Homo sapiens: one gene and its partner. The protein of the gene in region 1 interacts with the protein of each later gene in a pairwise test. Each region holds a gene or a part of one and is shown in the gene's direction. Other genes may lie near its edges.

Region 1 (3,823 bases):
ACTGTATATTAAATACAGGGAAACGTTCAGGGTGCTGCCCGAGGGCCTTATCTTCTAAGCACAGATCTCAGCCCTTCAGTAGCTCTTTGTTCTTTGATTAACCAAGACGAGGCATTAGAGAGTTTTCCTGGCAGGGTGGCTTCTGGATTCAGGTGTGTTACTCTGTTGTGCCTGGTGTGGATGAGCTCCCACCAGGAGGGCTGCAGCCCCTTACAGGCGAGTAGCAGGCACAGCTGTGGTTAGAATCACCTGCACACTGTGCTGAAAAAAAAACACTGTATTATTATAAGCATTTTCAAACATATAAAAGGCAGAAGGATAGTGCAGTGAGCCCACCACCCATCAATCATGGCCAGCCTTGTTTCATCAATTTCCCCCTTAGCCCCCGCTCACTGCTGATTATCTTGAGGCAGATCCCAGATATAGCATTTCATTCATTGAACATTTCTTTGTGTATGTCTAGAGAAAAGGGCTTCTTAAAAAATGTGCCATGATACCATTATCGCATCTAAACATAATAATGCCTAATATCAAATATGCAGTTGACATTTGTGTTTGCCTTTTGTCCTGTGCTTTCTTTTTTTCTTTTTAGATGGAGTTTTACTCTGTCACCCAGACTGGAGTGCAGTGATGCAGTCTCGACTCACTGTAACCTCTGCCCCACGTGGTCAAGTGATTCTCCTGGCTCAGCCTCCTGAGTAGCTGGGATTACAGGTGCTTGCCACCACGCCTGGCTGATTTTTGTGTTTTCAGTGGAGACGGGGTTTCACCATGTTGGCCAGGCTGGTCTTGAATTCCTGACCTCAAGTGATCTGCCCGCCTTGGCCTCCCAAAGTGCTGGGATTACAGCGTGAGCCATTGCACCCAGCCTGTGCTTTCTTTTTACTGCTTCTTTGAAGCAGGATCCAGCTAAATCCACAGGTTGCAATAGGCTAAAGTGGCTCTTACGTCTCTTGTACTTTGCAGGTTCCCTCTGTTTCTTTTTATGATGTGGAAAAACCAGGTGGTTTGTCCTGTAGGGTTTTCCCAAGTCTGGATTTTGCTGATGGCTTCCTCATGATGTCATTTCATCTGTCCCATTGTCCCATGTAATTTCTGTACTTTGACAATTAGATCTAGAGGCTCGATCCCATAGACATTTGATTTTTTTTTTTTTCAAAATCAGCTTCCTGGTGGTGATGGTGATGGCACTTGAGCAGTTAGCAGCTGTGGATAGTGATTTCCTAGATCCATTAACTCACTAGGGGTTGCAAAAATGGTGATATGCCAATTCTGTTTTGCCTTCTTTATTAACTGAAGTCCCACTATCAGGAGAAACTTCCGTTTGTTAACTCTGTTTATCCTGAGGTGCAGATTGTGTAGGAAAGACAGGATCACTGCTTTATTTTTTTCTTTTATTCAGTGATTTTCAAAATTATGAGGTGATTCCCTAGCACACTCCAAAAGTGACTAATGAAAGTTTATCTTCTTTTTTTTGGATTCATATGAATGCATGAATATAAACATATTTGATGAGTTTCAATCTGCTGTAGGTATACTGTCCTTATAGTTGCTCAAAACTTGTCCTTATTCCCAGCACTCGTGGTGTTTGAACACTGCCTTGATGTTGGTATAACAAGATGCTTCAAGCTCAGCTTGTACATTTCTGCCTATTCCAGAACTGTCCAGGTCTCTGGCTGTTTCCTGCTATTGGTTTGATCATTACTTCTGGGCCCTTTCAGGAATCAGAGCCAGGAAAGGGTTTATACTGATGCTTCTAACGTGCTACAAATGTGGGATTTGGGGTTTGTCCTTGACCCTGTCAATCTTATGGCAACATTGCCTTTAGAGATGTCAAAAATAGAGGTTCTCAAAGATGCCAGTACAATGGCTTGTTTGATTTCCCAGAGCTCACATGCAACAATCTTAGAATAACAGTTCTTTTTTTTTTTTTTTTTTTTTTTTAGATGGAGTTTCTCCTTGTAGCCCAGGCTAGAGCGCAGTGGTGCGACCTCAGCTCACTGCAGCCTCCACTTCCCAGATTCAAGCGATTCTCCTGCCTCATCCTCCCAAGTAGCTGGGATTACAGGCATGTGCCGCCACGCCCAGCTAATTTTGTATTTTTAGTAGAGATGGGGTTTCACCATGTTGGTCAGGCTGGTCTTGAACTCTTGACCTCAGGTGATCCACCCATCTTAGCCTCCCAAAGTGCTAGGATTACAGGTGTGAGCCACTGTGCCCAGCCAGCATAACAATTCTAACACTATTACGACTGACTGGTAATAAAAAAGACTTGATGAATTTTTTTCTGTTTGTCTTTAGGGAATGTTCCATTAGTCAATTGGAATGGTTTCTCTCTGTATTTATGCCACTAAGTGGACATATTTATTCATTTGATTCATTTCACTTTCAATTTTTAAGACTTAATTTTGTTTTATAAGAATGTAAAATATTTACAAGGTTTGAAAGTCAAATCTTCAAAGTAAGATAACTTCTTAAAAATCTGGCTCCTAGCCCTGCCTCTCTATCCTATTTTGTCCCCTCCCCTAGAGGATAATTTTTCTTATGTTGTGGTTTTTTTAAATTTTATGATTTTCCCTTCTAATGCATATATTTATTTGTGTCTCCTTTTTATTAGATAATGTGTAGTTCACCATACATACTTTGCTAGAATTTGCTTTTTTGCTTAACAATATTTTTTAGAGACTACCTTGTAGTATCAGATGGGGATTTTTCTTCTTCCTTTTAATGGCTCTGGAGTGCTCCGCTGTGTGGATCGCCCATATCCATGCGCCAGTCTCCTGCTGATAGACAGTGGGGAAGTTTCTAGAATTTCACTATTACTAGTAGCACCGCAGTGAACACCTTTGTGCATAGGTCTTTTTCCTGTTTTTGCCCGTGCATGTTGTACTTCCAAACCAGGTTGAGCTCCTGCCACCTTACTGGCTGTGGCTGGGGTCTCGCAGGCAGCAGTGAAGTAGCCGCGGGGCAGAGACATGGGGAAGCTTAACATTCGGGAATGGGAAGAGAGGGGCTGGGGCCCAGAGCCTTACCCTGGAGGAGGTCTGTCCAGCTGGGTCCCAGCCCCACCCTGCTCTTTTCCCTCCTCCCAGATCCGGGGTCACCATGTGGCCCAGCTGGACCCCCTGGGCATTCTGGATGCAGACCTGGACTCCTTTGTGCCCTCAGACTTGATCACAACCATTGATAAACTGGGTAAGACCCTTCCTCAGGACGGCCATGGCAGTGCTGTGTGGGTGGCCCAGTAAGGGGCCCACGGGCACTAGGGACAGCCTGATCCTTGGGAATCCATGGAGCTCGGGGAGCAGCCCACAGGGCCTCCTTTCTACCTTGCCTGTGTACTGCCTGTTGTTCCTGAGAAGGATGCCTGCCACTTTCCCTAGCTTGTGCCCCATGTGTTCAAGCCTGAGAGGCTTGTCCACCCTGCCTCCCTGGGCTCACTCTCACTTCTGCTCCCCAGGTTGGACCCAGAGGGAGGGCACTGGGGAGACTGGGAGGTCTGGTGAGACTGCGGGGCTCCACCTGGGCCTGACCTCCCTCCCTCCACTTTGCTGCCCGGGGCTCGGCCACGCCTCCTTCTCCAGCCTTCTATGACCTTCAGGAGGCTGACCTTGATAAGGAGTTCCAGCTGCCGACAACCACCTTCATTGGGGGCTCTGAAAACACCCTCTCTCTGCGGGAGATCATTCGGCGCCTGGAGGTGAGCACAGGCGGGTGTGTGGGGTGCAGCTGAAGCAGCTCTTTGGAGCTTGCCAGAGGACGGGAAGGCACTGTCTTTTTTGTTCTAGACAGCAGGGATGTCAGCCGTCCCTCTTCCCCGCTC
Region 2 (3,823 bases), on another chromosome or scaffold:
AGTGCCATGAATGAAGAAAGACCCTAACTGGTTTTTCAATGTACTATTAACAGGGACGGAGAATAGACTGATTTGCAGAGTACTCTTCTGTTTCAGGCATTCTGCCAACTGCTTTCCCCAAATTATCTTATTTAACCTCCATCACAAACGAATAAACAAGTACAAATGTGCTTCTCGTTTTACATTTGAGGGAATTGATGCTCAGAGACATGTAACTCACCAAAGGCCATCTACATGCTCTAGAAAGTAAATTTGAGCTTGGATCCTGTCAGAACTCAGAATTCATGCTTTAAAAGTGATTTTGTTTTAGTCTTTTGTATATTTTTGAAGACTTACTCTTTCATGGCTTGTTCATCATTTGTCAACAACACAGGCATTTCTGTTCATGAAAATGCTTTAGACAGGCCAAACAGAAGAGTTCTGTTTTAACCATTTCCTCAATTGACCTTATGGTACGCAATGTCATTAAGGTAGAAAGTTGCAGTGATTCTAACCACTGAAGATAGGCTTATGAGAACTGAAGCTATAAGGATGTCATTTGCTGGGTGTCCCAGAGCCCCAGTTTTTTAAGCTGGTCAGTCAGCTTGTCAGGATATGGTGCCCCTTTTCTCCATACTTGCGTCCGAATTGGAAATAGAGACAAAAACAGGTAAGCAGCTTGCAAAAATCTGGCTACACAGATTTTTCCAACCAACTTCTGTCTGACTCTAGAGCCAATGATGTTAATCACAACTGAGTATCTGTGTCTTTATAGCTTCCGTGGTCATAATAAATATATTCCTAGTACATTGCTGTGAATCTCACTTCGCTAATGCAATTCCATTTTCTTATTGATTTACACTGAGCATCAGAAATTCTTTCTGTCTCTTAAACATAATGGTAATCTCAGTCCTTACCCAATTAGTAGTTAATGATCAGTAAACAAGTCTGGAGTGTAACTGCTTTTTATTTGAATGAAATAATCACACTGAGTTTTTCTCATTTTGGAGAGAAATTTCTTTAAATATTTCCAGTTAAAATCTTGGTAAAACTGGCCTAGTATATACTGACATAGTTTCAGTAATATTCTATGTGCAACTTTGTTCTTTTTAGGCTATTTTGTTAATTTTTACTCTTTTCAGCAGTCAATACTATTTCCTTACTTATTTTTCCAGTTATTGGATTTTCTTTGTATTTTTATTCATGAAACAAAAAGGCCAGATTTGTTAGAAGTAAGAGGGGAAAATCAAACAACAATATATTATATTTGTAGAGTGCAATTCTTCCAGGTATACCTATTCTATCTAGCTTACTTATTAATCAGGACCCCTTTTTAAGATCAGGAGACAAGGAAACAACCACACATATACTGAGCAGCATTTCTTAGTTGATGGGTTGTAAAACCGATACCAAATTTTAATTCTTTCTTCAGAAAATATTTTGGATTTCTCTAGAAAATATTTTATATTCTAACTTTGAAACTCACGATATAGTCACTTGAATCATGATGACTTTCAAAGTGAGAATAGAAATAATAATAAATAAAATGATACATGATGAGAGACTTATGGTGCTAGATATAAAAATAAAATAAACAGATGGGAGAAATATAATGATTGTAAGGAAATATAAACTTTAAAAAGTGAAGTATCCCCTAGAAGGAGGAAGTGGTAGGTCGAGAAGTTGGTCAAAGAAAATGAAAATGAGTAGGAGATAATTTAAAAAGACTATAAGTGAAAGAAGAGGGAGGAGAGAAATTCCAAGAAAACAGATAAGTTTTAAAGAGCCAAATAAAATAATTAAATATATTAATGGAAATAATTGATACTGTTTTAAATGTTGGCATAAAAATATTGTAGGGATTTAAGATAAAGAAGAAAATGCTATAAAGTCCAAGTAAGTGAATATTTTGGACACCAAAGAATGCAGAAATGATGAAGAACAAGGAAAAAAATAGAAATAATGCTAATAGCAATGTGGTAGTTCGACAAAACCAGAAAATCCAATTTTGGTAATATATTTTTATTTCACAAATATTTTACAAGAACTTTCCCAGCCCAAAGTGTTGTGCCAGATGAATTGTGTGATATAAGCAGAAGTTTAAATTAATGTTTCTGTCTTTATGTAGCTTGCAGAATTGCTGGAAAGTCATTATATAGTATGACAAATATTAATGGCAAAAGTAGGTTGTACCTAAACACATGCCGAATAATTTAAAGAAATCATCTGTGCTATGAAGGCGTAATTAAAAAGTGGATAAACCACTAAGGATTCATCATCTTCCAGCTCCTCTGTTCCCCTAACCGCATGCAGTCCCACTTGCCCAAAACCTGCTGCTCCTTCTGTTTTCTTTATGTCAGAGAATGCCACTACCCTTCTCTCCATTCACAGGTTTGAAAGCTGTATGTCATCTCAGATGCTTCAAATATCCACAAGCCCCCATCACTAATACGGTGTTGCATCTCCTTAATCTAAATCCTCCTAAATCTCCCCTCTCAACCTCATCTTCTCCTCTCTTTCCTTTCCTGCTGGCACTGCTTTCCTTGAAGCTGTCTTTCTCTTTCTTTCATAGACTGTTTGTTTTTTACACACTTTCCCCTACAGTCTCTGGCCAGAGTACTATTTTTTAAATGCCAACTCAGTCCAATTGTGAAAAATCAAAATTTTTCAATGGTTCCTTTTTGCCTATAATGGAAAAATATCTAAACAAAAGATGGTTTTGCTGATGGATATTTCTGACTTTTCATTTATTTGTCCTAAAAGCCTCCACCACACAGTCCCCAGTATCTATCTCCCACATTTGCATTTTCCTCTTTAACAATACTTCACTATTTGCAGTTTCTAGAATGCCTGTGATTATTCTTGTCTCTCTGCCTTCTCACACGCTATATCCTCCTCCTAGAATGCCATCTCCTCTTACCTCACCCTTCTTGGGAAGGAAGGCTCAGGCTGTGATGTAAACTAAGGATCATCCTCGATGCTCTCATTGCATCATGGATACATTGGCCTCTATTACAGTATGTCTTCCGTTTTGCTTTATCTTTGTGTCTCCCTCCAGACTGTAAATATCTCAAGAACATGGAGCATAGTGTTTAAATTTCTGTCTCCTCCAGCACCAAACCCAGTGCCTGTCACATAGTAGATAGTTAATAACTGTGTTGAGTGAAGGATGATCTAGCGTGGCAGAAGGATGTAAGGCTTTGGACCTGATAGGAAGGAGAGAATGCAGGAGAAAGAGGTTGATGAAAGAGGGGAACTTCAATAGAGTGAAAATAATGATGAAAGGACAGAACAAGAAGAATGTAGGTGTAACCAGAGGCTGTCCCTTTCACAAAGCTCTTTCTTCCTCCCATAATATGTTTTATACCTTGTTTGGTAACAATAGTAAATGTGAATGCCCACTGTGAGCCTCATAGCGACAATTAGAAATAGTCAATATCATCCCAATTTTACAGAACAGAAACTCAGAGAGGTCAAGAAATGTGATCAAAGTCACACAGTCCACAAAGGGAGCAAGAGGACTTAAACACAAATCTGTCTGACTTCCAAGCTCATGATGTCATTGCTTATTTAATGATATTTATATCAGATCTTTAAAAGCTGTGCTCAGATTGCCTTATGTCATTGTTCCTGCATTTGCAATCACGAAAGCACAGGTTGAGGTGATGCCTCTCTCAGCCTGGATCACGTAGTAACCTCTACCCATGATGGACAAATAGTATAAGTAAGAAATAATTGGCTGTTTTAGACTGCTGAGATTTTGGAACTTTTGCCACAGCATAGCTTATCCTGTCCTGATTAACATAGCATATTCTGAAACATTCCCCAAGTGACTCAGACATGC

Evidence for each region.
Region 2: the proteins of OGDHL (region 1) and SLC13A1 interact in a protein complementation assay, tested with the Homo sapiens proteins (one large-scale study listed by BioGRID).

The regions. Positions count from the first base shown.
Region 1 is NC_000010.11:49,752,010-49,755,832, reverse strand, and holds part of OGDHL (2-oxoglutarate dehydrogenase-like, mitochondrial), read left to right. Parts: intron 1-3,092; coding exon 3,093-3,195; intron 3,196-3,584; coding exon 3,585-3,700; intron 3,701-3,823.
Region 2 is NC_000007.14:123,193,337-123,197,159, reverse strand, and holds part of SLC13A1 (solute carrier family 13 member 1), read left to right. Parts: intron 1-3,823. UniProt on the Homo sapiens protein: Sodium:sulfate symporter that mediates sulfate reabsorption in the kidney and small intestine. Can also mediate the transport of selenate and thiosulfate.